3 separate regions of the Homo sapiens genome follow, and regions 1 and 3 are each linked to region 2. Evidence: fine-mapped expression QTL. A gene starts in region 2. Each other region holds a variant in brackets. All regions are shown on one strand. Distances are from middle to middle.

What was found. PIP is the estimated chance that this variant, and not a neighbour inherited with it, causes the effect.
Region 1: its variant is fine-mapped to the expression of MAPKAPK5-AS1 in whole blood (TOPMed, PIP above 0.99).
Region 3: its variant is fine-mapped to the expression of MAPKAPK5-AS1 in whole blood (TOPMed, PIP above 0.99).

What each region holds. Positions count from the first base shown.
Region 1 is chr12:111,164,352-111,175,180 of GRCh38, forward strand. The region is part of intron 1 of CUX2 (cut like homeobox 2); the gene reads left to right. Among named protein-coding and RNA genes, the nearest start is that of MIR6760, 130 kb to the right of the region's middle. The variant A/T (reference allele first, on the strand shown) is at 4,977.
Region 2 is chr12:111,836,748-111,847,576 of GRCh38, forward strand. It overlaps MAPKAPK5-AS1 (MAPKAPK5 antisense RNA 1), which reads right to left and starts at 6,258. Exons shown (of 2, transcript NR_015404.2): 1 at 4,580-6,258; 2 at 3,020-3,730. It overlaps MAPKAPK5 (MAPK activated protein kinase 5), which reads left to right and starts at 5,481. Exons shown (of 14, transcript NM_003668.4): 1 at 5,481-6,022. The coding sequence starts at 5,987. RefSeq lists enhancers at 5,057-5,336, 6,067-6,166 and silencers at 5,367-5,546, 5,627-5,976, 7,658-7,826.
Region 3 is chr12:111,444,442-111,455,270 of GRCh38, forward strand. SH2B3 (SH2B adaptor protein 3) reads left to right here. Exons shown (of 8, transcript NM_005475.3): 3 at 2,312-2,413; 4 at 2,501-2,592; 5 at 2,684-2,778; 6 at 2,889-3,103; 7 at 3,215-3,386; 8 at 3,542-7,182. The coding sequence ends at 3,861. It overlaps ATXN2 (ataxin 2), which reads right to left. Exons shown (of 25, transcript NM_001372574.1): 24 at 9,236-9,404; 25 at 7,773-8,399. The coding sequence ends at 8,371. It overlaps LOC124903019 (a long non-coding RNA gene), which reads right to left and starts at 304. Exons shown (of 2, transcript XR_007063462.1): 1 at 1-304. RefSeq lists enhancers at 694-963, 4,084-4,153. The variant G/A (reference allele first, on the strand shown) is at 4,118.

The DNA of each region.
Region 1 (10,829 bases), 670 kb before region 2:
GATTACTTGAGGTCAGGAGTTTGAGACCAGCCTGGCCAACATGGTGAAACCCCGTCTCTACTAAAAATACAAAAATTAGCTGGGCGTGGTGGCACGTGCTTGTAATCCCAGCTACTTGGGAGGCTGAGGCAGGAGAATCACTTGAATCTGGGAGGTGGAGGTTGCAGTGAGCAGAGATTGTGCTATTGCCCTCCAGCCTGGGCAACAGAGTGAGACTCCATCTCAAAAAAATAAAAAAGAAAAAAAAAGAGAACAAGCAAAAGACAATAACAGAAAGTGAGCATGAGGGATCCACACAAATTGGATCAGCCCCCCAAGGTGTTCGTAGTTAGAAGTCACGCAATAATTGCTTTGGGAGTTTATGAAACCTTGAGGCACAGAGGAATGTTAGGGGTCCCATGAGCAATTTGGGGATGTGAATGTTGGGGATTCACATCCTCACTGCTAACAGTGTGATGTTACAGTGTGGTCCACAGTAGAACTGAATTGCTCATTAGAAATACAGAGACTTGTCCCTGCCTGTACCCCCTGTAGCAGAATCTGTACTTTAACAAGATCTCCAGGTGACTCGTGTGAAAATTAAAGTTTTAGGGCCAGCCATGGGGGGGAGAGGAGGAGGACAGATCAGAGGGAAGCAGAGCCAAGAGACAGAAATCAAACCCTGCGAATAGCATTTGAACTGCTGGATCCAGCCATACCTGAAGCCACCACTCCACTGTTCAATTATATGAGCAATGGATTCCCTTTTTTTCTTAAGCTACTTTGTAGATGCTGTCAGAAGGGCCTCTGTGTCGTAAGGGACTAGGGGCTATTTATGCGGGTAAGGATGGGGTGGAGGCTATGATCCTATATGCCATTTTATTAGGAAAACATTTGGTGTTTAGCTCTCTGGGTAGGGAAGAGATGCATCTTTCTGCCCCCTGAGAAAAGAGAAGTAGGAAGGTCATGGAGGGCCATGGTGACCCACATGGCAGGACGTCTTCAGAGCCAAACCAGAGTGACCTCATTGAGGCAGTGGCCTCCAGAAGTTGTCAAACAGAGTTAAGCACAGAAGATGCAAGGGTTTGGTGGAGAGTGGACACAGACTGTCGTCTGTCTCTACCAAGACGGTCAGTGTTATTGTCTCATGGCGGGGAATTTGGGCCACGTGCAGAGAACATGAACTTTAAAATCCACACAGAACTGGACTCAAATTCTGGTGCTGCTGCCACTTGCTCACTGTATGACCCTGGGTGAAGAAATATGTGTATCTGGGCCTCATTGTCCTTGTCTACAAAATGGGGGTAAAAATAGCACTGACCTCATTGGGATGTGGAGAGTGTTCGTGCAGCAGTGACCAGAGCTGGTGGGTGAGAACCAGCTATAAGCATCGCCTCCCAGCTCCACGTGTAGTGACATCACAGCAGGGCTTGAAATTGACCATGGTGGGAAAATGTACACCATGGAAATGGTAAATATCAGAATTTGTCCTTTTTCTCCAGAGAGCTGGTTGTTTAACATTTACCAGCATCCTACTGGTGAAATGCCAAGACGTATTTAAATTGCTATCCACAGTGTTTGGTGGTGGTGATTACTAATTACGATTATATTAAGCATGTTACTCTAATATTACTAATATGAAATGGTTTTCATGATTGCGCTTTCAGTGTGTCCACTTTGACTCTTTTTTGTTGTTGTTGTTTTTATAGACTGGGTGTCTCGCTGTCACCCAGGCTGGGGTGCAGTGGTGTGATCACGGCTCACTGCAGCCTCAACCTCCTGGGCTCAAGTGATCCTCCTGCCTCAGCCTCCTGAGTAGCTGGGACTATAGGTGTGCACTATCACACCTGACTAACTTTTTTCATTTTTTTGTAAAGACGAAGTCTCGCTATTGTTGCCCAGGCTGGACTTGATCTTCTGGCCTCAAGCGATTCTCCTGCCTTAGCTTCCCAAAGCACTGGGATTACAGGCGTGAGCCACTACGCCCAGCCTGCGACATTTATTTTAACTGCTTGGAAGCCTTTTCTTCTAACCCTCTGGCTCCTAGCTCCATTCTGGAAAGCTGACATTATCAGTTAGCTGAGTTCTGAGTAGACGACATACCGTAGATGGTAATACCCAAACTAACATTTATTGAGCATGGACTAAGTGCCAGGCACTGGAAAAGCACTTCCTGCAGATATTCTCATTTAACCCACCCAACAACTCTATGAGGTATGAACCCCATGTTGTGAACACAGCCCGAGGCTCAGAGAAGTTAAGTGACTTGCTCTGGTTTGCACAGCTGCTTGATGGAGGGGCCAGGCTTTGAACCCTCGCATTTTGACTGTAGAGTCTGTGCTTTCATCAGGAGGATCTGCAGAGGCTAAACGTGGAAGGGGCCGGTGTTTGGTCCCTGAGAGTGGACCCTCCTTGCTGGGAGGCTTGGGCGGGGGTAGCGGACACTGCCCAGGACCGAGAAGTCCTGACGGCATCATCTGCTTGGCGAACAGCAACCGTCCAACTTTCTGGGACGCGTGCCGGCCGCATTCTGATTGGCGAGGGGATGTCTCTGTTGGAAGGGAATCTTGGCCACTTGCCCCTTGGCAGCAGGCTGCTGGCTGCCACGTGGAGTGCCGTTTGGAGGCGGTGGGAATTATTCGGCAACCTTGCCTGGGATAGCTTGGAATGGATTGTGGCAGGGCAGGGCGGGGGCTCTGCCAGTCTCCTAGACAGGCTGGCAGGGAGAGCGAGAGCGCCAGCACTGTCACAAGAAGCTCACAGTCTCAGCTTCTGCACTGTCCTCCCTGCCCCTGTCTGTCTCTGTCTCTTGCTATCCCTTGGCCTCTCTTTCTGCCAGGACTTGAGCTGACAGGTGGTTTGGCACCAAGGGAAGCACCATCCCCTGTCCCCACAGGCCTTCTTTCCTTCACCTGCACTGAAGCTTAGGGGCTTTTGCTTCTTCCACTGTTCCCTATTTCCATCGAGATAAAGTTCACACTCCTTGACTTGGCTCGAAAACCTCTTGTGATATGACCCCTGCCTCTCGGTTCTGTAGCTTGTGCCCCTAAGTAGACCATGGGCTTCTCGAGGGGGAGGGCCTGTTTCATCCTCAACTTTTTATTTTTCTGTAATGCCTAGCCCAGAGCTCACTCAGAACAAGTGGGTGAACTTGAAAGGCAAGGAGGGGTGACCCCCGTCCATGGTAGAAGGGACCGAGTCACTTCAGGATTTGCAGTCATAGCCTGTGCTGCATCTTAAGGCAGATTTACCACGTTGTCAGATGCCATGCAAAGCTCTAAGTTTTTTCTGTTCCTATCTCATTTAATCCTCCTAACAATCCTATTAGGTTGGCCCTGGGTTTGTTTGTTTGTTTGTTTGTTTGTTTGTTTGTTTCTTTTTTGAGATGGAGTCTTGCTCTGTTGCCCAGGCTGGAGTGCAGTGGCATGATCTTAGCTCACTGCAACCTCTGCTTCCTGAGTTCAAGTGATTCTCATGCCTCAGCCTTCTGAGTAGCTGGAATTACAGGTACACGCCACCACGCCCAGCTAATTTTTGTATTTTTGTAGAGAAGGGGTGTCACCATGTTGGCCAGGCTGGTCTCGAACTCCTGACCTCAAGTTAACCACCCACCTCTGCCTCCCAAAGTGCTGGGATTACAGTTGTGAGCCACTGCGCTCAGGGTACGCCCTGTTTTATCCCCATTTTACAGAGGAGGAAACTGAGGCACAGAGAGATCACCTAGAGAGGGCAGTGATAAGATTTGAACTCAAGCCAGTCCGGAGCCAAGCTGGCTGGAGTGAAGTCTTTCTAAACTGCCCTGACAGATGTGCACCGTCTCAGCGCCGTTCCTCCCCAACCCATTTCCTGAGGCCTCATCAGACAGCAACCCAGTTTGTGGCTCCTCACCTCACCCCAACTCTGCTGTGTTCACACATCCTTGATGAATTAACCTGGGCAACACCAGCCCTGCCTGTCACACTGATAAAGGTAGAGCTGTGGAGATCTGGGTTGCAGAAGATGTCACAAGCCCTTCTCTCTGCCTGTCACCTGTCCCCTGCAGATTCCAGGGCTGCTCAGAAGTTTTGGAGAATAGCTGGAATGATCCTTATTGATCTGATGGGTGGGTGTTTGGAAACAAGGAGAGACGCACTAAGTTGGTTCCTTCCAAGCAGGACCTCCCACCACACCAGAACCTCGTCCCGTCGGTCAAGGGTGGCCCATGTGGCTCAGCATGCTGGGGACTGATTGTTTCCACGTTCCCTAGCTCTGCCTGACAACAGAGCGACATTCCTGTGCCATCACAGGGGAGAGTCGCATTGTGTTAGTGACTCCCCATCAAACTGTGTCATATTGGGATTGTATTGTATTCATAGTTGTTTCCACTAATGTGATATGAAAGTTACTAATCGGAGAAGACTCCTGCATTGTATTAGGGAAAACAAATATTAATATGAGTCGATGGAAGTAGCTAATAAGAAACGCAAGTTGCTAATAGGACATGATGGATCAGTGGGAGGAATTTGGGTCGGGTGCTTGAACTTTTGTGGAATGCTCAGCCGGGTGGGGGTTGCAAGATGGCAGGAACTCTATGTTATAGTCGCTCAGAGTATGAAGGTCCATATCAGAGCCCCCTGCCTGCCCCCTCCCCCCACTGTCATCACTACCCCTCCATCTCACCTCTGTCCTGCATTGAATGGCATCCGCCAAAATTCATGTCCACCTAGAACCTCAGGGTATGACCTTATTTAGAAACAGGGTCTCTGCAGGTGAAATCAGTTAAGATGAGGCCATACTAGAGTAGGGTGGGCCCTAAATCTAATGACTGATTGTACTTGTCAAAAGGCCACATGAAGACAGGGACACTCAGGGAGAAAGTCATGTGATGACAGAGGCAGGGATGGGAGCGATGCCACAAGCCCAGCAACACCAAGGATGGCCGCGACCACCAGCAGCTGGAGGTGGCGAGGAAGGACCCTCCCCTGGAGCCTGCAGAGTGAGCGCAGCCCTGCCAGCCC[A/T]CACCTTGATTTCAGACTTCCAGCCTCCAGAAGCGGGAGAGAAGACATTCCTGTTGTTTTAAACTCCCCTAGTTGGTGGTAATTCATCACAGCGTCCGTAGGAACAGAACCCCCTTTCCCCACCATGCCCCAGAAAAGCAGGGATGGCCACAACCATACTCGTTTTATTCAAAGATAGCCAATCGGATCAGGGACATTCTTCCACCCTCAGCGGGTCGGCCTGGCTGCCTAACCAGCCCTGAGGATGGAGGGCTGGCTCTCTCCCTGACTTTGTTCTTTTAAAGAGGAAAAAGCCTCCTCAGTGGCAGGGTGGTTGGCATATGGGCTCCGCAGCCTGCTTCGCGTCACGTTAATATGTGATTAAAGGGGTCTTAAAACGCCCATTAGTCCCCCTCTGGTATCTAATAGCGCTTTTGGATTTAGAACAGAATATTATTTACTCATTAGCTGATAATAGACCCTGAGTACACGCCTTATGTATTGGGACAATTATTAGAGTCGATTACACACAGAGACGTGGTTCTGCTGGGGTGGCTGGTGGCAGGCCAGGGTGGTCCAGAGGGCATGAGGGTGGCAGGGAATGACTATGGGCCATATGTGGACAGCAGGGAGCCCGCTAGAGATTGTGTGTGGCAGCTGTGGATGGAAGCAAATTCCCTGTGCAAACAGGGCCACTGGATGCCCCATGCAAGGTACTAGGGGGAAGAATTTAAGGAAACTGCCTCCAAGAATTGGGGTGCCAACAGTAACAGCCCCTATGCAGCAGTAAGGGATTGCACTTGAGCATTCGTCCTGAGTCTCCCAGGATGAGAGTATTAAGAACAATAACTGGCCAGGCGTGGTGGCTCACGCCTGTAATCCCAGCACTTTGGGAGGCAGATCACCTGAGGTCGGGAGTTCAAGACCAGCCTGACCAATATGGAGAAACCCCTTCTCTACTAAAAATGCAAAATTAGCCGGGAGTGGTGGCACATGCCTGTAATCCCAGCTACTCGGGAAGTTGAGGCAGGAGAATCACTTGAACCTGGGAGGCAGAGGTTGTGGTAAGCCAAGATCATGCCATTGCACTCCAGCCTGGGCAACAAGAGCAAAGCTCCGTCTCAAAGAAAGAAAGAAAAAAAAAAAAACTGCCCCCACCGTGGATCACAGGATAGGGTGATGTGCCCAGGATACACAGCTAGGAAGTGACTGAAGCTGGATGCACACCCCCAGCTCTTCTTTTTTTTTTTTTTTTTTTTTTTTTTGAGACGGTGTGTCACTCTGTCACCCAGGCTGGAATGCAGTGGCACGATCTCAGCTCACTGCAACCCCTGCCTCCTGAAACCCAGTTCTTCTGATGACAAAGCCTGGGTTCTTTTCAACATCCTCTCCACTTGCTGCAGAAACTGCTCAATGATTCCAGTCTTCCCCATTCTCCGACAGAAAGAGGAACTTTGACATCACTTCCTCTTATGTGTGGTGTGTTGGAAAGATGAAAATAGCAGGTTGTTCCTCTCCGTGGCTGGGTCCCTGACCTCGGGCCCAGCGTGGTAGGAAGGCCGAGGTGGAGGGAATAAGCATGTGGAAGCCATGGGAGTGTCTCCTGGGAAGCGGGAGAGATTAAGGAGGGATGGACCGGGCCCATGTCTGGCATCGGCAATTCTGGTCAAGGTGCATGGGAATGGGAGGGGAGTGGGGAAGCGCCAGGTAGGGTCCAGCAAGGTGTTCTGGTTGCCCTGGTGATGCCTCTTGGGCTGTGACCCAGAGTGGCGTTGGCATCCAAGGAGAGAATAGGTGCTGGTAACACCTGGAGTCATCCCAGCAGGTGTCAGTGGCTGATTCCACTTGGGGGTGACAGAGATGGAGAAGTTGGGCAACCCCCAGTCTGATGGACGGGGTGCAGAGTATGGAAGGAAAGCCTCGAGTTTGACCTTCACACACACCTTGACCTTGTTGGCAAGCCCGATCTGCAGGTCATCAGTTTGCAGTGATTTTGCCAGTGAACACCTGAGCCCCTTAGTGCATTGTGCAGCCTGCTGAGAGCACCAAAAACCTCCCCTTAATACCCAGACTCACTGCGGCTTTTCTGAGACCGGCCAGAAGGACAGACGAGAGGGGTTTCTTATGCACCAGTGGGAGTGGGTCTCTCTCTGACCCAATGCAAGCAGCCCGGAGACATCTTGCTTCCTTGTTTCCATGGCTTGTGGGGAAACCCCGGTCCCGTGTCCCTGTGCACGCAGATGGCTAGTGGCTCAGTGGGTCTCCGGAGCACAGCCACCTGACACATCTGGGGCTATGGGACGGAAAAGCCCAGAGTGCCCTCTCTGAGGAGTCATCCCAGCCTGTGGCCACAGTGATGCTGAAGGGGTTTGCAGGCCATAATTAGGGGCTCAGTGTCACCTTTGTCCAGTGCCTGAGCTGAGAACAGGGCTCCCTGGTGAAAGAATGGCAGGGTCCCTTTTCGCCTCCCGGGGAAGGAGCCGGAGAGAAGGCAGAGCTTGGGAAATTGGCCCTCTGTCTTCTCCCATCCAGATATGTGGGTCCTGGGCCTTACCTGTACCAAATAAATAACCCATTTCCCAATGGGCAGGCAGCATATGCACTCTCTGTGTGTGCGTGTGCCTGTGCCTGTGTACACGTGCGTGTGTGTGCGTGCATGTGCATGCACCTGTGTGTGTGTGCATGTGCCTGTGTGTGCGCATGTGTGTGCATATGCCTGTGTGTACCTGTGCCTGCGTATACATGTGCATGTGCACACGTGTGTGCATGCACCTGTGCGTATGCATGTCTCTGCGTGTGCATATGCTTGTGTGTGTGTGTGCATGTGCCTTTGTGTGTGCATGTGCCTCTGTGTGTGTGTTTGTGTGTGTATGTGCATGTGTGTTTGCCTGTTTTTTAATAAAGCTCACCAGGAGCCAGATATCAATTTCTGTCAGAGAGACGCAGAGCATCTGAACCAGAACTAAATAAAAATAAACATTAAACAATTATTGGAATTTAGGTTTATTTAAAAAATCAGCAGGGTTGAGGGAACCAGCCACCCATTAGCGAGGCAGAACTATCGGGCCTTTTAACAACCCGCTGGTTCTTGGCTGCCAGAGAGATTTGGGCTGTCCAAGCTGTAGAAACTCCAGATCCTATTGATTAAAGATGATGCAGTAACGAACAAATTATATCATCGTGGCTGCTTGTGGTGCTGGCCAACACTGGCTACCTGTTTGTCTTGATGGAAATGGCTCTATCTGGGGGACTCCGGGAGGGTGGTTCAGTGTCCCCATCCCAGCCAGCGCTTTCCACTCTGTGCAGTTCCTGCAGCTGGGTGGAGGCTCCGAACCTCGAGCTGTCTGGGGTTCTTGTGTTTTTCTCCTCTCTGTCCCTTCCATGGACATCTGTAGTTTAAAAGGAGTCTGTGTCTTGTCAACCAAATCAATGCAAATAACCAGTGAACGTTTCTCGACTTTTCAGTAATAATTGATCTTCCCAGAACTGATATCGTTTGGAAAACGTAAGTAAGGAGATCAGCAGTGAGCCAGATGTCCACACTAAGAGAATATAACTGCTCTGAGTTATAGGAAAAGAAATGATTTCCCTTCCAGCTTTAGCTCCAAGAGCTGAGCAAACTGCCGTGCAGCATCGAGAAGCTTCCAATAAACTCGGGGCTTAGTTCGAGGCAGCCTCAGCCTCTCAGCCAGAAGACTTGGGTGAGTGCGGGACTGGAATCTTCCAAGCTGATGGGCAGACTTCTTGCCTGCAAATTTTTGGTCTCTAGGTTTTTATCTGGAAGCTGTCTGCACAGCCAGTTGCTGTCAGGGAGAGAGAGGTTTGTTGTTCTTCTTGAGGGATGTTCAGGCTTAGACCCTGAGCTGGGCATCTACTGCGTGGGAGTCTCCCCTTGGCTGGTTCTTTGGTTGATGTTCTTGTTGTTCTAATTTGATGGTCATTCCCATACATTGCTGTGATTGGCTCCTGACTTGACCAGGGTGATACTCAGAAAGTCAAATGGGGACGGGGACAGGGTTGATCTGTGGGCTGGTGGATGGAAAATAGGATGCCAGGGGGCACTTTCTTTATGAACACTGTCATTCTTCCAGAACTCATTCATTTGTTCATTTGAGCATTCATTCATGTGCTCATGCAACATATAGTTCCGGGGCACCTACTCTCTTCTAGGCACGATGAGGTGCTGGGCGCACAGGGGTACCTGCCCTCCTGGAGCTTTTAGTCTAGCTATGAAGAGGCACAGACTTGAAATAGTTCCTGATGACATCACAGTTGCCATAGTGCTTCATAGAGGTGAGGAGGCAGCAGCAGGGGCTCACGACAGCAGGAAACTGGCCTCATGTTGGGGTGTTGGTCTGCTGGAAGTAATGTTTAAGCTGCAACTTGGCTGAGGGGTAGGCCTGAGTTAGGCCATTGATTTTCAGACTTGAGCATGCATTTAAATCACCTGAAATTTCCTTGAAAAAAATCGCCAGGCTCTACCCTCAGAGTTTCTGATTCAGTAGGTCTGGAGCCCGTCCAAGAATTTGCATTTCTAACAAGATCCCAGGTGACACTGATCCTGCTGGGCCAGAGACTTTGGGAACCACTGAACTGGGCAAAGAATTGGGAGGAGAGGGCATTCAGGTAGCGGAAACTGCACGTACAAAGGTCCTGGGGCTGGTTTGGGCTTGGCAGTTTCCAGGAACCAAATGAAGGGCCAGAGGGTGGAGCAAAGCACAAGGACTGTGGGAGGAAATGCTGTAGAGAAGCAGGCAGGGCCCTGACCACACAGGCCTTGCAGACTGGGCTGGAGAGTTCAGATTTGATCTGAAATGGAATGGGGAGTCCGGGGAGGTTTTAAGCAGGGAAGTATCAACATCCAGTTTACATCTTGAAATGCCCTGTCTGGCTGCCAGGGTGGAAGTGAGATGGCAGAGAATTGCATGGAGCCAGGGAGGCCCCTGCAAGCATCCAGGCAGGAATTGGCAGTGACCAGACCAGGCTGATGACAGCAGGCATGGAGAGGCACGGGACGTGTCTGAATGAGTCCACGCTCCTGCTTTCCAGGAAGTTTTCCTGATCAGTTTGGTTCCACCCTTCAATCTGTGAACCCTAATTTCTCACTTGAAGAAGTTGTCCTATGTTGACGTGACATTAGCAGTTCCTTGAGGGTAGGGCTGTGTGTGTCATATGTGAGTCACATGCAGCCCCTAGTTGGATACACAATACCTTATACTAGCTGGCCAAAAGCACGGGACAGTTTACCTGCAATGGTTACCACATCCAGTTTTCCAAATACCCTGCAGGAAAGGTGGAGTTGTGCCCATTTTGCAGAGGGGGAAAACTGAGATTCAGAAAGGGCACGGGATACTCCCAAGCTCCCCAAGGTGGGCTGAAGGAAAAGCAAGATTCCCTCTACAGACTGGGGTGCCCTCTGGTGACCAGACAAAGGGAACAGGGACATCACCACCCGTGAACCCTAGACAGCAACCACAATTCTCTTTGGAGGTATCAGCAGCCTTCCCCAGGATGATGATCAGGCCACCGGAAATATTAAGCAGATAGAGAAGAAATTGCAGTTTTGAAGAAGTCAAAAATGGCCAAATAGCAGCAGTTTCCTGTGGTTCAACTGAAATCAAAATATAAAGAGGAAATCTTACAATTCCAGAAAATTCTGCTACAGCATGAGGAAGAGGAGTCACCATGCAGTCTAAATTGTCTCTGGAAGCAGCTCCCCCCCACACACAGAAGAGGGGGCCGTACAGGGATGCAGCATCTTAGAATCAGTCTATAATGCAATCAATTTTGTACATCCCTGGTGAAACAGCAACATTTATTTAACGTCTTTTATAGAGCAGCTGAGTTTTATCACAAATCACATTCCATTTCTAT
Region 2 (10,829 bases):
CGCGAGGGTCCACAGCTTCATTCTTGAAGTCAGTGAGACCAAGAACCCACCAATTCCGGACACACTACCATGCCTGAGTAATCGTATTTTTAGTAGAGACGGGGTTTCACCATATTGGCCAGGCCAGTCCTGACCTCGTGATCCACCCATCTTGGCCTCCCAAAGTGCTGGGATTACAGGCGTGAGCCACGGTGCCCAACCTTATTTATTTTTAATTTTTTAATTTTAAAAAATTTTTTGGAGACAGTCTTGCTCTGTCGCCCAGACTGGAGTGCAGTGGTGTGATCTTGGCTCACTGCAACCTCTGCTTCCCGGGTTCAAGCGATTCTCCTGCCTCAGCCTCCTGAGTAGCTGGGATTACAGGCAGGCGCCATCACGCCCGGCTAATTTTTGTACTTTTAGTAGAGATGGGGTTTCACCATATTGGTCAGACTAGTCTTAAACTCCTGGCCTCAAGTGATCCACCCACCTCGGCCTCCCAAAGTGCTGGGATTACAGGCGTGAACCACTGTGCCCGGCCAAATTTAGTACTTTAAAAAACATTTAAAAGTCTGTTTCTGTGGGTCGGGAGTTTGGGTATGGCTTGGCTGGGTGCGCCTGGCATAGTCTCTCACGGGGCCACGATCAAGTTGTGGGCTGGGGATGCCATCAGCTAAAGGCTCAATTTGGTGAGTATCCTTTCTAAGCTCATGTATGTGTGGGTAGTCCTTAGGTACTCACTGGCAGCTGGTAAGAGATGTTAGTTCCTCGCCATGTCTGTAATGGACTGAATAGTATATTGCCCCAAAATTCATGTTTGCACAGAAGCTCAGAATGTGACCTTATTTGGAAATAGGGTCTTTGCAGATGTAATTAAGATGAGATCGTGCTGGATGATGTTGGGCCCTAAATCCAACGACTGTTTTATTAAGAGGAGAGGACACAGAGAGACACACAGGGAAGGCCATGTGAAGACAGAGGAAGAGCCTGGAGTGATACAGCCAAAGAATGCCAAGGACTGTCTGGAGCCACCAGAAGGAAGGAGTCTTCCCTGTAGCCTTCAGAGGGAACATGGCTTTGTTGACACTTTTTTTTTTTTTTTTTTGAGACAGTCTCACACTGTCGCCCAGGCTGGAGTGCAGTGGCGTGATCTTGACTCACTGCAAGCTGTGCCTCTCGGGTTCACGCCATTCTCCTGCCTCAGCCTCCTGAGTCGCTGGGACTACAGGAGTCCGCCACCCGACCTGGCTATTTTTCTGTATTTTTAGTAGAGATGGGGGGTTTCACCGTGTTAGCTGAGACGGTCTAGATCTCCTGACCTCATGATCTGCCCAACTCGGCCTCCCAAAGTGCTGGGATTACAGGCATGAGCCACCGTGCCCCACCACTTTTTTTTTTGAGATAGAGTCTCGATCTGTTGCCCAGACTGGAGTTCACAGGTGCGGTCTCCGTTCACTGCAACCTCTCTGCCTCCCGGGTTCAGGTGATTCTCCTGGCTCAGCCTCCAGAGTAGCTGGGATTACAGGTGCCTGCCACCACCACTGGCTAATTTTTTTATTTTTATTTTTAGTAGAGACAGGGTTTCACCATGTTGGCCAGGCTGGTCTCGAACTCCTGACCTCAAGTGATCTGCCCGCTTTGGCCTCCCAAAGTGCTGGGAGTACAGGAGTGAGCCACAGTACTCGGCCTCTGCTGACACATTCATTACAGACTTCTAGCATCTGGAGCTGTGAGGATAAACTTCTGTTGTTTTAAGCCACCCAATTTGTGATACTTTGTTACAGCAGCCTTAGGAACCAAGTGAGCTGGCTTCCCTAAGAGCAGATAAGTAAAAGAGTCAGAGAGGGCCCCAATGGAAGCCAGAGTTTTTCTGCTACCTAATCTTGAACATGACATCTGTTCACTGAAAGCAAACCACTTGATCCAGACCACATGCAGGGCGAGAGGACTACATAAGATCATAAATACCAAGATGTGAGCATCACTGGAGGCTGTGAACCAGGGCTGCCACACCAGCAAAAAACAGAGGAATTTCATTGGAAGAAACCGCTTTCTTCAGGGTTCTGCCTTCTCCATTCATTGATTCCTTCGACAAATAAATTTATTAAGTACCTACAATGGACTGGGTATTAGGGACATATGACCAATAAGACAAATAAGATTCTTTCCCTTGTTGAGATTATTTAGTTACAGGATAATAGGAACATCTGATTTAGATTAGGAAAGGAGGGTATGGGCAAGGCATGCCTTTCTGAAAAAACATTATCAAGAATTGGCCAGGTGTGGTGGCTCACGCCTGTAATCCCAGCACTCTAGGAGGCTGACGTGGGCGGATCACCTAAGGTCAGGAGTTCGAGACCAGCCTGGCCAACATGGTGAAACCCTGTCTCTACTAAAAATACAAAAATTAGCCGGGCGTGGTGGCGGGTGCCTGTAATCCCAGCAACTCGGGAGGCTGAGGCAGAAGAATCACTTGAACTCAGGAGGCGGCGGTTGCAGTGAGCCGAGATCGCACCACTGCACTCCAGCCTGGGGGACACAGTGAGCCTCCGCCTCAAAGAAGAATAAAGTTGAAGAATGAGTAGAAACCAGGCTGTGTGTGTATGTGTGTGTGTTATGAGGGAAGCATGAGTTTCTAGGTAGTGGGAAAGCACGTGCAAATAAGTCGGTAAGTTGAACAGCTAGACTAAAAGCTGCTTGAGAGCAGGGACCTTGTCTCTTCATTGCTGCATCTCTATTATACGACATCATCTCTGCATCTCTATTACAAGACATAGAGCCTGGCAGAGAGAAATTCTTACTGGATGAAATGAATGAATAAATCCAAGGCATCTTCTATAGGTTAGTGCAAAAATGACTGCAGTTTTTGCCATTATTTTTAAATGGCAAAAACCACAATTACTTTTGCACGAATATTTCCTGTTACAGATGTCAACTGAAGTCATTTAAAAATTTTCTCCCAAAGTTCATCGCGGGATCATTGCTCTTATTCATATTAGGTAGCATAGGCAAAGCTGCTAGAACAAAAGACTCAAAGTAAGTAAACGGTCAACACAAGTTTATTTATTCTCACATAACAATACTGAGTGGATATTTAGGTCAGTAAGGCACAGTTCTCCTCCACTTAGGAATCTCCCATCTTCAGGCCTTGCCTTCTCCAGAGCCTGGTCACCATCTGCTTCCAGTTGGCAGAAGGAGTAACAGCACAGGGGAGCACCTGTTGGAGGTCTGTATGGGCCAGGCCTGGAAACTGCACACCTCTTCTGGTCACTTTCCGCTGGGGAGAGCATAGGCACAGAGCCACACTTAAATTTTACTTTGAGGAATGCAGTGTAGGTGTATGTCCGACAAAGAAAACAATAATTCGGTAGACAAATAAGTCTCCACTCCAATATTCAATTACTTACTTAACTTATGCTCTGGTATGTCTCAAATTAACCTAGATAGAAATGAACTCTGAATCTTCCACTTCCATCAAGTTTTTCACTCACTCAATGGCATCATTATCCATCCAGTTGCTTAAGCATACATTTGAAAGTTATCCTTGGTCTGTTTCTTATCCTTCCCTTCCACATCTAATCCTTCAGGAAGTCCTGACAATGTTACCTCCAAAATATGTCTTAAATCCATCTTCTCAGCCAGGCACGGTGGCTCACGCCTGTAATCCCAGTACTTTGGGAGGCCAAGGGAGGTGAATCACTTGAACTCAGGGGTTGGAGAGCAGCCGGGGCAATGTGGAGAGACCCAATCTCTACAAAAAAAATACGAAAAATTAGCCAGGCATGGTGGCATGCGCCTATAGTCCCAGCTACTCAGGATGCTGAGGTGGGAGGATCGCCTGAGCCCAGGAGGTCTAGGTTGCAGTGAGCTGTGATCACGCCACTGCACTCTAGACAGTGGGACCGTTTAAAAAAAAAAATCCATCTTCTCTACACCTTTACCGCCACCTCCTTAGTTCAGACAGTGTAATAATCTCTCATCTGCATTATTCTCCAATAGCCTCCTAATAGCTCTGTTTCCATTCTTGCTTTCCTATATTCTATTCTCTACAAAGCAGAGTGATCTTTTAAAACAAATTTGTTCACATCACTCTTTACTTTAAAACCTTACAATAGCTTAGAATAAAATCCAAAGTCCTGATTATGACCCCCAAAGGCCACATATGATGCAGCCCCTGCCCACATCTCCAACCTCATCCTTTTTATACTTTTTTTTTTCTTTTTTTGAAATAGAGACGGGGTTTCGCCATGTTGGCCAGGCCGGTCTCGAACTCCTGACTTCAAGTGATCCGCCCGCCTTGGCCTCCCGAAGTGCTGGGATTACAGGCGTGACCCACCGCGCCCAGCCTCCAACCTCACCCTTTATCAGTCTCCTCCTACTCGATCTACTCCAGCTACAATGACCTTCTTGCTGATTCTTGAACATATTTAGCTTATTTCCACCTTAAAATTTCTACCCATCTGCCCAGAAATCTTTCCTTGGATTTCCAATAGCCAGCCCTTTCTCATTCCTCAGGGGTCTCAGCTTAAATGTTACCTCCTGAGATTCCTTCCTTAATCATCTAATACGAAGAAGTCCCCACATCCAGTTATTCTCTTACCTCAGCATCCTGTTTATGTTCTTCTTAGCATCAGACTCGGGCTTTTTCCTGTTTATTACCTACTTCGTTTTCCTGAAAGATCCATGTGCCGGTACCATGTGTTGTTCCTACTGTTTCTCCAATGTCTAGTAGATTTGGCACATACTGATGTGCAATTAATACGTGAATGAAGAACCATTGACAGACGATTAGTCAAAAGCTCTTGCAAAGCCCTTTGATAGGTTATCGGTGGAGAGTAGGGAGCACAAACCTGGGGTCCCATTCTAGCTTGACCACTTCTCGGCTGTGCACAAACTAGTCTAGCTCTCCTGAGCCTCAGTTACCTATTTTGCAAATTAGGGATGGGAACATCCATACCTCACGACGCCAAACGGCTACCTTGTAAAGACGAAAGGAGGAAATGCAGGAAATAACTCCACGTAAGGTTAATGCTCCGTAAACAGAGCTGCTACTGCTATTATATATTCTATACAATCCTGCGCCCTTAACGGCAGGACCCTTTCAGTGCTTCAGTCCTGTCTTCTCTCTCCTGGGTTGACCTCCACAGATCCTCTCAGAAGAGCGTTTTCCAGGCGTGAATCTCCGCAGAGTGGAGATAAAGGCTGAGGCCCCAACGCACGCGCACTCACGCGAGTCCGGGCCTATGACGTCATTAGCGCAGCGCCATCGCCGCGGAAGGCCCAGGGGCCTGTCCTGTATGCGGCGTGTCTTAGGGAGGCCCAGGCGGACGCCTGCAAGTCGGGTGCGCGGTTCGGGGGCGGCTCGGAAACCCCAGCGGAAGGCAGCAAGGGGCGCGTGGGGCCGTGGAGTCACGAAGCTGGGCGGCAGGAGGGGCGGCCTGGAGCTCCCGCGGGGCACAGCGCGTGCGTGAGGGCGGCCGGCGGGGCTGCCCGGCGCGGGTGTCCCGGCGATGTGTGGCGCTGAGGCGGCGGCGGGAGCAGCGGCGCCGAGCTCTGCTTCGGCTTCGGCTTCGGCTTCGCGGCGGTGCAGGCGGCGGAGGCGGAGGCGCAGGCTCTTCTTTAGGACCTGGCGAGCCCAGGTCTAAGCGGCGGCCCCGCGAGGCCCTTGCACGGCGCCCCGGGTCGAGGCCCTCCCCGCCTCGCCCTACCCCAGGAGCCTGCCTCCCCAGCTGGGGATGAGGCTAGGAGGCGGCCGCGTGGGGCCCAGCACAAAGACCTGTCCCCAGGGGCCGCCGCCTCCGCCGCTGCTGCTGCCGCCAGCCTAGAGCCGCCCGCCGAAGCAGAGCCGGCGCCGGGGTCCTCATCCCCACCGGTCCCGAGGGGCGGCTGCTGCCCGTCGCCACGAGGCCCAGGGGCCCGAGTGCCGAGCCCTTTGCTCCCTCGGCCGCGCGGGGACAGGGCTGCTGAGCAGCCTCCGCCTCTCCCGGCTGTGGGGGCCCCACTGAGTATGTCGGAGGAGAGCGACATGGACAAAGCCATCAAGGTAAGGGGGAGGTGCCCCCTCTTCCCCCGCGTTGTCCTGTGGCGTTCTTCTCGGCTCTAGCCTCAAAAAGCAGGGAGATTTTGCAGTGAGAGGTTCCATCGACTACCGGGTTTCGGCCTCCCCCGGATTCCGTGGATCGCGCTTTACAGCCCTGGGGCCAAGGGTTATGGGTGTGGGTGTAGGTGTGTGTCCGACTCCCGCCAGCTTCCCTGGTGAGTGTGATTTGTGCTCAGCTGGAACAGAGGTGAGTGGCCTGGAGACACTATTAAGTGTCAATGAATGGGACGAAGAGAGCCCTACTACTACTACTACACGTTTCGATCACTCCCCAAGGCCGCCAGCATTTGCTTCCGGATGGTCTACAGAACTTGGAGAGTTGGAATTTATCCATCCCTCCCGATTTGTTTGAAATCAGCCTTCTGGAAATCTGCAGTTGGAAAAAGGTGGTTCGCCGTACAAAACCTGTCCTTTGGGGAATAGGTTGTCCTCACTTTTCCGTGTATTCTCCCCTTTTTCTTTTTCCTCTTCTTTCTCCTAGGAAGCATTGAGTTTACTTAGGAAAAGTTAACAGTTCCTGTGACTTAACTGCACTTAAACCAAAAGAAAAGCAAATGTGTGTTCGAAAATTACACAAATAAAATAAGTTTTCTAAAACCTGTTTTTAACTTTTTTTTTTTTTAAAGGCACATTTTGCCCACTCAGGGCCAGTTATCTGTCTTGACAGCTGTAGCTAAGAAATTAGTCTTATGAAAATTAAACATTGACGCTTAAAGTTTGATGTATTATTTACTTATTTGTAGTGTTAAGTCAGCCCAGTGCATTGAATAATTTCATTTTATCTTGAAGGACAGGCATCTATTGGCAGCTTGGGGTTATTTTCCCCTTCAAGACAGTTACTAGTAATGATTAAGAATTTACATTTCTACCAATTCTTTAGGTGGTGTATATAGTTTCTCAAAATCATCAAGTCATTCCAAAGAAACTTAACCCTTTAAAGGAGGCATCAACATATAACATATACATTAAGGAAGACCAGGTTTTTTGTCTGTTTGTTTGTTTTTGAGACGGAGTCTCACTCTGTCGCCCAGGCTGGAGTGCAGTGGCCCGATCTTGGCTCACTGCAAGTTCCGCCTCCTGGGTTCACGCCATTCTCCTGCCTCAGCCTCCCGAGTAGCTGGGATTACAGGCGCCCACCCACCACGCCCTGCTAATTTTTTCTTTTGTTTGTATTTTTAGTAGAGACGGGGTTTCACCGTAATAGCCAGGATGGGCTCGATCTCCTGACCTCGTGATCTGCCCGCCTTGGCCTCCCAAAATGGTGGGATTACAGGCGTGAGCCACCGTGCCTGGCCCAAGGAAGACGAGGTTTTAAATCATAAAGATTCTAAAAGACTGCCTTGACATATCCTTCTTTTGTTTTGGGTTTTGTTTTTTTTTTTGAGTCGGAGTCTGGCTTTGTCATCCAGGCTGGAGTGCAGTGGGATGCTCTTGGCTCACTGCAACCTCCACCTCCCAGGTTCAAGTGATTCTCCTGCCTCAGCCTCCCCAGTAGCTGGGACTACAGGCACGTGCCACCACACCCAGCTAATTTTTTTGTATTTTTAGTAGAGGTGGGGTTTCACTGTGTTAGCCAGGATGGTCTCCATCTCCTGACGTCATGATTTGCCCGCCTCGGCCTCCCAAAGTTCTGAGATAACAGGTGTGAGCCACCGCGCCCAGCCTTGGTTTGGGTTTTATTGGCACAGAGGCATGATATGCCGCCTGAAGTTATTTAATTGGGTTGTGAATCAAAGCGTATGTGGCCAGTTTTTAAACATTGTCTCCTGTGTGCCAGATGGTGTCCTAGACACAAATGGTACAAGCCAGACTCCTAGATGTCCCTACTGTCATGTAGCTTATATTCTAGAGGGTGGGGTTACTGCTAGGTGGTTTTAATTAAGTGTGGAAAGGGTGAGGAGTACTGTGTTAAATAGGGTAGTCCGAGGAGGTGACACTGTAGAGTTCTGATGGAAATGCGAGAGCAAGCCACCACTGTCTCAGGGAAGAGTATAACAGGCAGTGGGAATAGCAAGGACAGACCTTGAGGTAGAAGCAGGTGTAGTGTGATGTAGGAAGAGCAAGGTGGCTGGAATGCAGTGGGTCAGTGGAGATGATGTAGAGCAGCAATGGGAAGCAAGGCACTTAGGGCCTTGTAGGCCATCGTAAGAACTTTGGGTTTGACCCTGATTAAAAGGGGAACTATAGGAGAGTTTTGAACAGAAGAGAGACATAGTTCCAGGAGATAAGTATACAAATAGGGCAGCAATGTCACTTAGTGGTTGTTATAGCTTCTCTAGGTAGACTCAGTTGAAATCTCACCCTATGTTTTTTTTTGATACAGAGTCTCACTCTGTCACCCAGGCTGGAGTGCAGTGGTGTGATCTCGGCTCACTGCAGCCGCCTCCTCCCAGGTTCAAGCAATTCTTGTGCCTTGGCCCTCCGAGTAGCTGGGACTACAGGCGCACACCACCACGCCCGGCTATTTTTGTTGTTATTGCTATTTTGTTGTTATTGTTGTTATATTGCTAGAAAAGATGGGGTTTCACCATGTTGGCCAGGCTGGTCTCGAACTCCTGACCTCAGGTTATCTGTCCGCCTTGGCCTCCCAAAGTGTTGGGACTACAGGCATGAGCTACCACGCCCAGCCCAGCGTTTCTATTTTATTAGCCGTGTGTCTGAGTACGACATCACTTCACTTCTGTCTCGTTAGTTTCCTCATCTGTAGATGGGATAAAAGCACTCCCAGCTTATAGGGTTTTTTGTTGGTTTGTTTGTTAGTTTTTGAGGATTAAATGAGCAGATATACCCAAATGTGCTTATAATAATACCTAGGCCAGGCACGGTGGCTCACACCTGTAATCCCAGCACTTTGGGAAGCCTAGGCGGGCGGATCACCTGAGGTCAGGAGTTGGAGACCACTCTGGCCAACATGGCGAGACCCCCGTCTCTACTAAAAATACAAAAATTAGCCGAGTGTGGTGGCACACATCTGTAATCCCAGCTACTCAGAAGGCTGAGGCAGGAGAATCGCTTGAACCTGGGGGGCAGAGGTTGCAGTGAGCTGAGATCATGCCACTGCACTCCAGCCTGGGCGACAGAGTTAGACTCCTTCTCAAAAAAATAATAATACCTAACAGCAAGAGCTCAATGAATATTAGCTCATAGCAACTTAAGGGTGCTTTAGAAAGAGTTGTTTTTTTCACTTGACTCTTGCCCAGCCCAATTTTCTTAAAATTTTTTTAGCTTTTCTTCACTCAGAAGTACTCAATAGGTCATGGTGAATCTACGCTAATTTGGGCATTTCCAGCCAATACCTATTGGTGGACTTGAAAATCAGTACTGATTAGGATGTACTGCTTTGGAAGCAAGCCAGCATTACATCAAATAAAAAACATTTGGTCTGTGGCATTGTGTTGTATTCATTGTTTTGCTTTTTGGGGGGTGTTCAGCAGATGGTGAGCACTGAGACAAACCTGTAGTGTTCAGCTGGAAAGCTATTTTCCTGGCCTCCAGCCACAACACTTTAACTCTTGCTGCCAGACTACCTGAGAGTGGGTTGATTGGACTTTAAGATCTCATCCTCCCTTATCCACGGTTTTGCTTTCCACAATTTTAGTTACATATGGTCAACTGCAGTCTGAAAATATTAAGTGGAAAATTCCAGAAATCAATAATTCATAAGTTTCTTTTTCTTTTTTTTTTTTTTTGAGACGGTCTTGCTCTGATGCCCAGGCTGGAGTGCAGTGGCGTGATCTTGGCTCACTGCAGCCTCTGCCTCCTGGGTTCAAGCAATTCTTCTGCCTCAGCCTCCCGAGTAGTAGCTGGGATTACAGGTGTGCACCACCATGCCTGGCTAATTTTTGTATTTTTAGTAGAGACGGGGTTTCACCATGTTGGCCAGGCTGATCTCGAACTCCTGACCTCATGATCCACCCTCCTCGGCCTCCCAAAGTGCTAGAGTTACAGGTGTGAGTCACCATGCCTGGCTCTCATAAGTTTCAAATTAAGCACTATTCTTTGTAGTGTAATGAAATCTCTTGCCATATTGCCTGGGACATGAATCATCCCAGCATGTTCACACTGTATATGCTTCCTATCCTGTAGTTACTTAGTAGTCATCTTGGTTATCAGAACAAACAGTATGTATAGGGCTCACTACTATCCAAGATTTCAGGCATCCACTGGAGGTCTTGGAACATATCCTCCCTTATCTGTGGGGACTACTGTACTCTTAAAAACTTTAGGATAAGGGGCTGGGCGTGGTGGCTTACGCTTGTAATCCCAACACTTTGGGAGGCTGAGGTGGGTAGATCATTTGAGGTCAGGAGTTTGAGACCAGCCTGGCCAACATTGTGAAACCCCCATCTCTACTAAAAAAAACAAAAAAAAATTAGCTGGGTGTGGTGGCAGGTGTCTGTAGTCCCAGCTACTCGGGAGGCTGAGGCAGGAGAATCACTTGAACACGGGAGGTGGAAGTTGTAGTGAGCTGAGATTGCTCCACTGTACTCCAGCCTGGGCGACAGGGTGAGACTCTGCAAAAAAAAAAAAAAAAATTTAGGATAAGGTCAAATGGCTGTAAGTGGAGGCTCTATCTTCTATTCCCTGTATCTTCTATTACCTGTATCTCTAGTCCCATAGCCCCATGACTTTGCTACACCCAAGGCACTTAGCTAAATCTGGAGAGTGGGCATTTTGGGATTAGGGATTCTTACATATTGTTTTCTATTATGTATAGCGAGTCGTTAATATTTGATGGAGTTTGTGAAAA
Region 3 (10,829 bases), 390 kb before region 2:
CCAGAAATAGACGCTGCAGGATGTGGTGGGTGACAGTCTACTGTTCAAACCACAAATACCTGAAATGATCTGGCCACTTTGATCACCCAACCACAGTAGAGCCTAAGCAGGTCCAGGGAGCAGCTGTTGCTGGCCTGGCTTGACTTTTGAGGGAGGTGGAATAGCGGGCATGTGAGAGGAGGGAACCTAAAGCCCCCACAGCTGCTGACACAGCCCCCAGGTTTGAGCTTGTCTCCCCTCTCACCCATCCCCCCATATAGCTTAATCTGATGGGCATCTGGTGGTCCTTCCCTGCAGTGGCCAGAGCCTGAGCTGTCCAGGCTGAGGTTTCGACTGAAGCAGGGGTTGTCCTGCGCCCATGTGCCCACACGCTGCAACCTGGCTGGAGCCTCTGGCATAGGACACCCATACCACCAGGTAGCTGTGGCGGACCCCGGCTCTGATACTTGGCAGGCTTGGGTTGAGATTGTGGCTCTAGGCCTGGGCGGCTCTCAAGGGCTGCTGTGGGGAGTTGGGGAAGAACCCCTGGGTTGTGCTCAGCCAGCAGGCAGGTGGCAGCCAGGCTGGCTGTGGGTGAGGAGGGGAATCCTCTTTTCACCACTGCCTGCCTGCTCAGCAGTTCTTCAGCTGCTGGGGGTGGAGCTGGCTTGCAGGGGCCAGAGTCAGAGTGAAACCGGCAGCTCTGCTGGTTAATCTCAGCACTGACACTGGGGACTAGGCCTGGAGCGGAACTGAAAGGGAGACTAGGCCCGTTCCCCTCCAGGCCTGGCCTATATCCTCCCAGTGATCCTTAAGGCCTGCAGCTAGGGGGAAGGGTGGGGGCCAGGCAGGGCCAACTGGAAAAGTAGCAGAAGGAAGTGGCCACTCGCACCTTACCCATCTTGCAGACAGGAAATGAAGGCTCTGCAGGGCTGGCTGGCTGTAAAAATGGGCAAGAGCGCAGAGGCCCCACTCCCTGCACACTGCGCTGTGTCCAGTGCCCGTGTGGATGCCATGTGAGGCCTCACTCTGCCTGCCTCATCCTGGCTGCTGGACCTCTGGGAGTAGGAGGTGAAAATGCCCTGGCTGGTGCTGGTCACTTCAGGCTGGAATTTTCTAGTCATGCAGCTTTCTAGTGAGAGGCCGCAGTGAGCTGTGGCCAGTGTTGGTCATTCCTGCAGTCATTACTCTCCCCCAGCCTGTTGTGTCCGCCAACCAGAGCAGGCCCGGGAGCTCCCAGGAGACCTGCTGGAAGGGCCCAGGTGGCCATCCTGCTCCTGCCAGGCTGCCCTCTTACCTCACTGTTCATTGACTCTCCTGCAGGTGGGGAAGGGGGATAAAGGAGGTGGCCAGGCCACTGGGTCATGATCCTTCCGACAGAGGTACCTGGCAGCTCTGTGTGTAAAGCAAGGTTAAGCATCTGGTTTTGGGGGTCAATTCAACAGCACTAGCAGCTCCAGTCCAAGGTATGCCCTTTTGGGCTGAGGTGGAGGTCAGATCACCTGAAGCCACAGTTGCTAGAACATCCTTTGGGCTGCCTCTGCTTTCCATCCCCCTGCTCCCAGTTTGTTAGGGGTTGTAGTATTTTCCAGGAACACCTGAATGGAGGGGGCCCAGTGGGGCCACTTCTGTCCATTCCTTATCTCATCTCTTTCTCCCCTTTTCTTCTTTCGGCCATCTTTTCAGTCTTATCACAAGAGGAAGGGGAGGGGCAAACCCCCTCCTGAGCAGATTCCCAACCGGAAGCAGCTGGCTCCTTGGCTGCAGAGTGCCCCAGCACAGGAAGCATCTGCAGGGTCAGTTGAGACCTGGGAGCAGGTTTCCTGCTGGCAAAGGAACAGTGGCTAACTCCTATCCACCCTGCAGCCCTATGTGCCGGGTGTCCTGGGAAGGTCCAGGGCCAAGATTTTGTGGTTTTACAGTGGCTATAACTTAGGCTAGCCATGCTAGGCTCTGCCCCTTTGGGCTTGGTGTGATGAGACCGTCAGCAGCTGCTATCACCTGGCTGGGCAGGGAGCTGTTTGCTCACCAGTGGGAAGAGAAACGGATGTCAGACACATGGCAGAGTGGGAATGTCTCCAAGTCCAGGTCCAATGGGCTGGGAGGGCTGGCCTTCTGCCAGCACATGCTTCTTGGGATCTCAGTGTGAATGGTGTTCAGGAGGCTAGGGGAAGGCACCCTGGACCTCACTACAGGCTCAGAGCCTGCCCAGCAACACCATGGATACTCTCTCTAAAAGGGGGACTCCTGGGGAGACTATAGACAAACTCAGGCCTGGCTGGAAGAAAGAGCATCAGGAACAAGCCTTGAGTACCCCAACTTGGTCTCGTAGAGTTCAAGGCCCAAGCTACAAGCAGCTTGCTCCAGCATCCAGGAGGTCCGGTGGTGCACACGGCTTGAGATGCCTGACAACCTTTACACCTTTGTGCTGAAGGTGAGTGACAAGGCTTTTCACACCCTGGGGCAATACAAATACATACACATACAGCAGACCCAACCCTGTTCCCTTCCTCCCTGCCAGGTGAAGGACCGGACAGACATCATCTTTGAGGTGGGAGACGAGCAGCAGCTGAATTCATGGATGGCTGAGCTCTCGGAGTGCACAGGCCGAGGGTGAGGTCCTGGGCCCTCGTCCCTGGCACCACCTTTGCTGCTACCACCCCTGACCTGCCCAGATCCTTAACCTCAGCCTCTTCTCCAGCAGGCTGGAGAGCACAGAAGCAGAGATGCATATTCCCTCAGCCCTAGAGCCTAGCACGTCCAGCTCCCCAAGGGGCAGCACAGATTCCCTTAACCAAGGTGGGTAAACCAATAGCTAGGCCATTGTCTTCTGGGTACGCTGGAACCCAGACTCAGCCCAGGACATAAGGTAGCCCCCTGCGACCACCATCACCCATCTTATCTAACAGGTGCTTCTCCTGGGGGGCTGCTGGACCCGGCCTGCCAGAAGACGGACCATTTCCTGTCCTGCTACCCCTGGTTCCACGGCCCCATCTCCAGAGTGAAAGCAGCTCAGCTGGTTCAGCTGCAGGGCCCTGATGCTCATGGAGTGTTCCTGGTGCGGCAGAGCGAGACGCGGCGTGGGGAATACGTGCTCACTTTCAACTTTCAGGGGATAGCCAAGGTATGGGGTGGGGTGGGGTGGGGTGGGGCAGGCAGGACCGTGCCACCCCTCTCCACTGGAGTTCAGGGTCCTAGAGGGACAGCCCGAGCCCACCATCCTCTCCTCCCACAGCACCTGCGCCTGTCGCTGACAGAGCGGGGCCAGTGCCGTGTGCAGCACCTCCACTTTCCCTCGGTCGTGGACATGCTCCACCACTTCCAGCGCTCGCCCATCCCACTCGAGTGCGGCGCCGCCTGTGATGTCCGGCTCTCCAGCTACGTGGTAGTCGTCTCCCAACCACCAGGTCTGACCCTACTGCCCTTTGCTGAAGGGGGTGGCTGACACTGGGTAGAGGGTAGAGGCTTGCTGCAGACCCAGGGGTACAGGTATCTTGTTCTGTGTCCTGTCAGCACTTGCCTCAAGACTGATGGTGTGGTCTCTCTTGGTCACTTGTCCTAGGTTCCTGCAACACGGTCCTCTTCCCTTTCTCCCTTCCTCACTGGGATTCAGAGTCCCTTCCTCACTGGGGTTCAGAGTTGGGCCTTCCCCACCTTAGTTCTTCTGGCTGTCCCCGGGGGCTCAGCCCAGAGGGTCTCCCAGGGCGATCCTCACCCCCCGAGCAGATCTTCCACCTGGTGCCTTCGCCCGAAGAACTGGCCAACAGCCTGCAGCACCTGGAGCATGAGCCTGTGAATCGAGCCCGGGACTCGGACTACGAAATGGACTCATCCTCCCGGAGCCACCTGCGGGCCATAGACAATCAGTACACACCTCTCTGACCAGTGAGGAATTCCAGGCCTCAACAGCTGCCCTTGAGGAGCACAGGCAGAAGTGTGAACTTGTGAATGTAATTGATCTTTCCTTCCTTCCAGAGAAAGATTTAAGGGACACTGTTAACTGCTCGTGCCAGTTTGGAAGTGACCCTTCTATTAGGCCTGTTGAAGGGCCCTCCTGTAGGTTTCATCTATCCACCTGGCTTTCTCCTTATTGTTTACAGATGTAGTTCTTGTTAGAGGATGCCGCTAGCTCCTGCCC[G/A]GGGTCCCTATGCCCAGTCCCCGTTACTCTTAGAGAAAGGAGTTGGGGTGAGGGCCAGAGCTGGCAGTGGAAACTTGTTCTCTTTTTCACTGACACTGTCACAGCGGATGACAGACTTTCTACGGGGAGGAGGGGGGGATCATCAGGAAGCCCAGAACACTAACAAGCGGTTCTCCCATCTACCGTCAGTCCACATGGCAGGTCTGCTGTGTCCACACCACAGATGACCACATCTAATCCTGCTTCTACTCTCAGCTTTAGGACAAAAGCTCTGTCAGAGGCACAAGCTGAAGGTCAAAAATGATTTAAAACATTTTACCTCAGACTAATTTCTTTAAAGGATTCAGGTTCAAAACTTAACCACTGCTTATTTCAGTGCACTGTTTCAACTAACACCCATGCTATTTTTGTAGTCAGAAACAGCTATGCAAACCCTACCTAATTTACAGTCTGAGCCAGCATGCTGGCTTGTCTACTGCATCCTCGGGACAGTCACCTGCCACTGAGTGGCCACTGTCCTTCCTAAATGTCAAGAAGTGAAGTATGTCACCCTTTCAGGGAAATTCAGGCAATTACTGAAATAGGAGGGTGGCAAGAACAGTTCTATCCTGGTGCCTTACGAATAAAAAACTGGATTCTGGTTTACAGCAGCTTTACAGTGATAGTTAAATTAACTGGGGCTAGGGGAAGAGCAAGCAAAAAGGGAAGAAGGACTCCTAGGCCCTTTCTAGTAAATCCTTCAGCAACAAGGCTGGCTTGGTGCCCTCCAAGCATCTAATGGCTTATTAAATTATCCCACAAGTGGGTTTTAGGCTCCTTTTTTGAGCCAAAATGGAAGCTGGGAATCTGGTGCCATAACTAATGAGAAACTCCTTTAATAGCCCACAATCAGTGTTCTGTTCTAGCTGGCTACTGCTTCACTGGATTGAGAATCTATCTATCTCCTTGCACACATGGGCACACACAATCTCCACCATCCAGGGAGGTCCTGAAGTCAAATCTCTATCTATACAAGTGATACAATTCATAGGGGGCTGGCTCCTCCCAGAACCTGTCTGGAGGCTCAGAAACGGGGGCAGTGACAGTGGAGTCAGCTGCTCTTGGGTGCCAGCAGAGCCATTCAGTACAACCCCCAGGCTCACAGCAGTGGCTTCTAGGAAACTGGGAGTTTAGATCAGCTTTACAGATACATCGATCAGAGGCTAAAATGAAACCTCAGCCTAAAACTCATAGGACTGACTGCCTGGGAGGAGGGTTAGGTCTGCTTCTTCCACTTATACTTAGTCTCTGTGCTCCAAGAGGTCAAATTTTTGCTTCTAGAATTTCCTTGGGGTCTTTCAGAGGGTGGGGGAACAAACCCCTATGCACTTTTCTTTTTTTTTTTTTTGAGATGGAGTTTCTCTTGTCAACCGGGCTGGAGTGCAGTGGTGCAATCTTGGCTCACTGCAACCTCCACCTTCCTGGTTCAAGCGATTCTGCCTCGACCTCTCAAGTAGCTGGGATTACAAGCACCAGCCACCATGCCTGGCTAATTTTGTATTTTTAGTAGAGACAGGGTTTCACCATGTTGGCCAGGCTGGTCTCGAATGTCTGACCTCAGGTGATCCACCCGCCTTGGCCTCCCAAAGTGCTGGGATTACAGGCGCGAGCCACCGCGCCCAGCCTACACCACTTTTAGTACCAACACTCTTGGGTGATTTCATGGACCCTAAAGCAGACCTGACACTGATCCAGATTTGCAGTCCATTTTTAAGGACACCTGTCTTTATTTCCTCAAAGTCAAGCAGCTTTCTCTGGAAAATGAATGCTAATTAGTGTGAACCAAAAGAGTAAGTAAGAGTCTGAAGTTTTTTTAAAGGAGAAAGCTTATTATGGAAAGTCACTGGTCCTCCCCTCCGCACAGGAAAGGTACCCAGTAGATAATGAACCAAATTAAGTTCCCTCCCTCCAGCCAGAAGTTAAACATCTGGGATATGACGTCTTCATGCCAGGGGCACTCATTTCTTAGCAGCCTCTCTACATACATCTCTCAGGTGGTGCCAAGAGGCACACCAGGTAGAGCAAACTTAGCAGCTCTGACTAACAGGCTGCAAAGTGCAAGTTCAGATTCTGTGGCAGAGATTTGGAAGGCACCCACCTCCAGACTGCTTCCCGTCCAAGTTACCAGGACAGCTCAAAAACATGCTGACAGAAAACTCCCATGGCTCTAGGAAGAAGTGACACTAAGCCAACACCTTTCTTTATGTGGGAGCAGAATCAGCTGATGAAGGGGTGGGCAGCAGTGTGGGGCAGGCACCCCACTGGCTGCAGCTAGCCCACCATAGGCACAGCACATCCCACCACTCTCCTTCCAGTCCTGACCAGGCCCCAGCCGGCAACTTCTACCGAGAGCCATGGCTCAACACCAAACTGGACAGTAGACATCATGATCCCTCCAGTTAGCTCTAATTACAGACCCCACCAGTACAGCTTGACAGCTCCCGGCACCATCCCTTCCTTCATCTGACTTATTGAACTTTTACAAACTAACAGTCACCAGCACCAAAGAATTAAGTCAACTAACCTGCCTTGAATTTTAGACCAGCAATCCATATGGCTTTATCTGGTATAAATCTTCTGCCTTTGATCATTTCTGGACCGTAGGAAAAAGGAATAGCAATCATTAAAATCTTGGGCCAGAGAACACTATTTTTACATAACAGTTTCTTAACCTAAAGTCAAGGCCTTGGACTCTTCCCTGAGGGTTGCCTGAGATTCCTTCATGCTTTCTATTCAGGACTAAGTCCCTTACTGCAAATGTGTTAGCTCTAACATCTCCCACAAGCTAGAGGAACTTGCGAGTATATTAACAAGGACACATCTGACATCCTGTGTTTGGTTAGAATATACAGCACATTGTGATAACATAAAGTGGATTCATCTTGTATCATTATAGGCAGAAGGTATTTGGCAAATTTTTATGTATTGTTTTATGTACTGTACAAGTAACTTATTCTTGAATAATGCAAATTTTGCTATAATGTACAAATTGCTATATGTGAATTAAAAAGTTTTCAGAATCTTGATTTGCTGTCATAATATTTAAAGGCTCTATTAAGACCATGGTGTCTCTACAAAATCCTTGCCCTGCCCAAATACTCGCTCTTCCCTTTGTCCTCCCCGTTGCAATCTGGGAATACTAACAAATGCTTATGAGTCCATCCATGTCAATAAGCAGCTTTGTACATCTTTGTATCTTTTCAGCCTTCATGCCCTCTGGATTTCTTTATTGCAATTTTTTTCTGAGTGTCTCCTGCCCCCTACTGGTAAAGTAGAAAAATGCCCGAATTGGGAACTTCCAGCTAATGACACTCATTTTGGTTCAGGAGATATTAAAAAGGAAGCTTACAGAATCGGTGTCAGCCCGAGGATGTGGAATTTCAGTGCTGCCCAACTCTGGCCAACCTTCCTCCTCCTGAAGCAGATCTCTAATCCACCAAAGAGAATAGCTCAGTCTTGTCTTTTTCTAGAGATACCTTGAACCAGAACTAAGGGTGAAGAAGAAAAATCATTTCACAGCTACCTTCCGGGATATTCAAAATGCACCCTTAGCACACCTGCTTTGATATTAAGTATCCTACAAAGAAGTAGCTTATACAGACACACACTAACTTGATCAGTTTTTAAAACTTTTTTTATTTTTTAAATTTTTTTTAAGTTTTTATTTTATATTATCTACAAAGTAAAAGTTTTTCCCTTAACTTAAAAGTTGAACCACTGTAGACAGTGATCACCTCATCAAACTTGATTTATAAATAATAATCCGTCAGTTTGACGGTAAGAATTTACTGAAACTTTGTCAAGTTTAGTAAAAGGGCGTTCCAAGTCTTGATTTTTTTTTTTTTTTTTTTTTAGCAGTAATAGCAGCAAGAATCACTCTTGTTACTTCTTTTGCTAGCTGATGTGTTCATGACTTTCAAGGGTTATTAAAAAATAAATAACTTCCAGTTTCGGCAAGCAGAGCTGGGGTACCTGCGGGACTCTGAAACAGCATATGGAATTATGGAATAGCCCCCAAGTTCCTAAATGCCTCTACTCGGTCCAAGTATCTTCCACTGCAAGTGAACTGTTAGCATTCCTATTGGATGTTACAAGAAATCAACATATATATTTTAAAAACAAAATAAATGAAATTCTAGTTTTCTGTGCTTCCAGTTGGTAGAAGCAGTAGAAGGGAGGAGGGAATTTGGCCTTTCGGTTCCTCCAGGGCAGCCTTACAACTGCTGTTGGTGGTGGGCTTGTACTGTAAAAAGAAAAGCGAACATTGAAACAGAAAACTGGCAACACCACACATCAGCCTAGTGTCTCTGCAGCACATGATTGTAAACTATCCTCGTGCTAGCTGAACAAAACTCAAAATTGAATTCGCTTTTCCCCCTCCCATCTGCACCAAAGTGGGGAGGGTTGGGTGGGTGGGTAGAAACAAACCAGTCAGACGTAAAACCACTTCAGATAAAACTCCCAGAAGACTTGTTCATGGGGTAGAAAAAAAGGCCTTAACAAACCCCCTCCCCAAATATTAGCCAAGCACCAGTATTGCTTTCAGAATAACAGGTCAGACTGTGAAGTATCGCCATGGCAGCCATCAAGTAGTAGAGCACAATCACAGGGCGCTCTCCCCTGTTCAGGGGCTGGGGCTAACGCTACACTCAAAGCCAGTCCATCCACAGCGCTTTCTCAGCAGTATCTTCTCCAGAGCTACAATCAAACTCTGCCATGGTAATAACCCCCCACATGTCAGACTTTTGGGACTCAGGAAGGAAAACACTGCCCTGTCCAGCCTGTCATAACAAGGAAGGCCAACTGAGTCCTAGGCATGCATCAGGCTGCTGTTGCTGCTGCTGCTGCTTCTCATCAAGCCAAATCCTGTATACCATCAGAACACACACAGACTCGGCTCCCGGAAGCCTCAGGCCCTGATGCTGAACTGATCGTCACAGTCCCTCCTGTGCACACTCCTGGACGGGTCTTGCTAGTTCTCAAATGCGGGGCTTGAAGCACTGGCCCTGCCTGCCATTCCACCTGTGCGAGCAGAATGCTTTGGGGTGCCCCGGCGGCCCCTGCACACACACGCCTCACCTGAAGGGTGCGTCATATAGGGGAAATGCGCTGTTGTCGAGACTGGAATGGGCTGTAGTGCACTTTGAGCGAGGGCGGCCTGGGGACCGCCGGGTGGCTGTGTCGTCATTAGCATCATTGGCGCATGGGCAGTTGGATGAGAAGGAACCATTCCTGACTGTACATGAGCCTGAAACAGAGAGCTCTTTTACGCATACAGGCAACATCTCCGGCTTCAACAACATGTCAACTGTGTTCCTTTCACTGGGCTGGGACTCTCAGGAAAGGGCAACGGTGGGCCTCAGGGCCCAGTTCTGTTCTCTGGGGACAATCTCTAGTAGATTATCTATTGACCTGAAGACGCGCTTCACCTTTGGGCAGATCCTGCAAGGGTCAGGGAGCAGGCAACAAGTGAGCCTGGGTAGAAGTCAGGGCTGTGCTGTCCTAACCCTTGACATTTCTGATCATTGTATTCTATGTATGGGGTAAGATCTTCACAAAGATTAGACACTGGATCCAAGGGCAGCTTTCTCAACTTAATATCATACAAGATTCAATGATGCTTCAGAATCAGGCTGCCATGTGGGGCCTGAGGTAGTTTTGCAGATAACATCCCTTTCAAATAGGAAAACAGATTACATTAATAAGCAGAGACTGTCACAGTCAAGTATGTGAATTACTTGGACCTCTGTTCATTTGCCTCTCTCCCTCTGCTTCTGGTCTGCTCACCAGGCAGTGAAAAGAGACTCTTAGGCCCCCGTGACTCTCTCAGAGATATGCTGATGGAGCAGGAGGAGGAGGAGGAGTTGGAGTTTTTAATGGCTCCAGTGAGATGGAAAGGAGTAACCTGAAGTCATCTGGGCCAGCCCAGCGTCTCTGTACCAAGTTCAACCTGGTCTCACTCACTGTCAAGTTGGAAAGGTGATTTTAGTCAGCCCAAACAGCTGGATTCCAGCTCTGCAGGGGGTTGGCAGGGCCAGGAAGAGCCCTTGTTTCCTTTTTCCCACACTGTGCACTGTTCTAGACTACGATAAGCCTTGGATGAAATGCCGTTTTTACTCTCACATATTCAAACGGGCACATGGCAAATTTGAGCTTCCCTGTGTTAACCTTTTTGCCCTTTCAGCACAAAAACAGAGTGAGGTTTTAGGGATCCCTGACTTACATGTAAGTTCACATGCCTACTTAGCCACCAGCCTCTGGTAGACACCTACAGGACCCCAGCTCTTATGAAGCTGACTCCACCAAACCACGCTGGCCCACACGGACCAAACCGGCTTCCCTCCCCACTATCAAAAAGCAAATCAACTGCAGTGCGCTACACCACAGAACCTAAACTTTGCAGGGTGAGGACGCCCAAACTTCCCAGAGCTGTGGAACTCTACTTACAAGGTAGCCTTCTGAGAGATAGATCCAACTGAGTCGCATCTCTAGCCCACACCTTGCCAGAGCCTCACTGGCGCACTATTTAACAGGAAATGGAATTCATTGTGGCAGGTCTCACTTAGACCCGCCTCAGAGAGTTCTGTTATGAAAGTAGCAGAGACATCTAATACAGCCAATTCACCCGTAACAGCCCCAGGGAGGGCCTCAAGGCCAGCGTTAGAGCCCAACT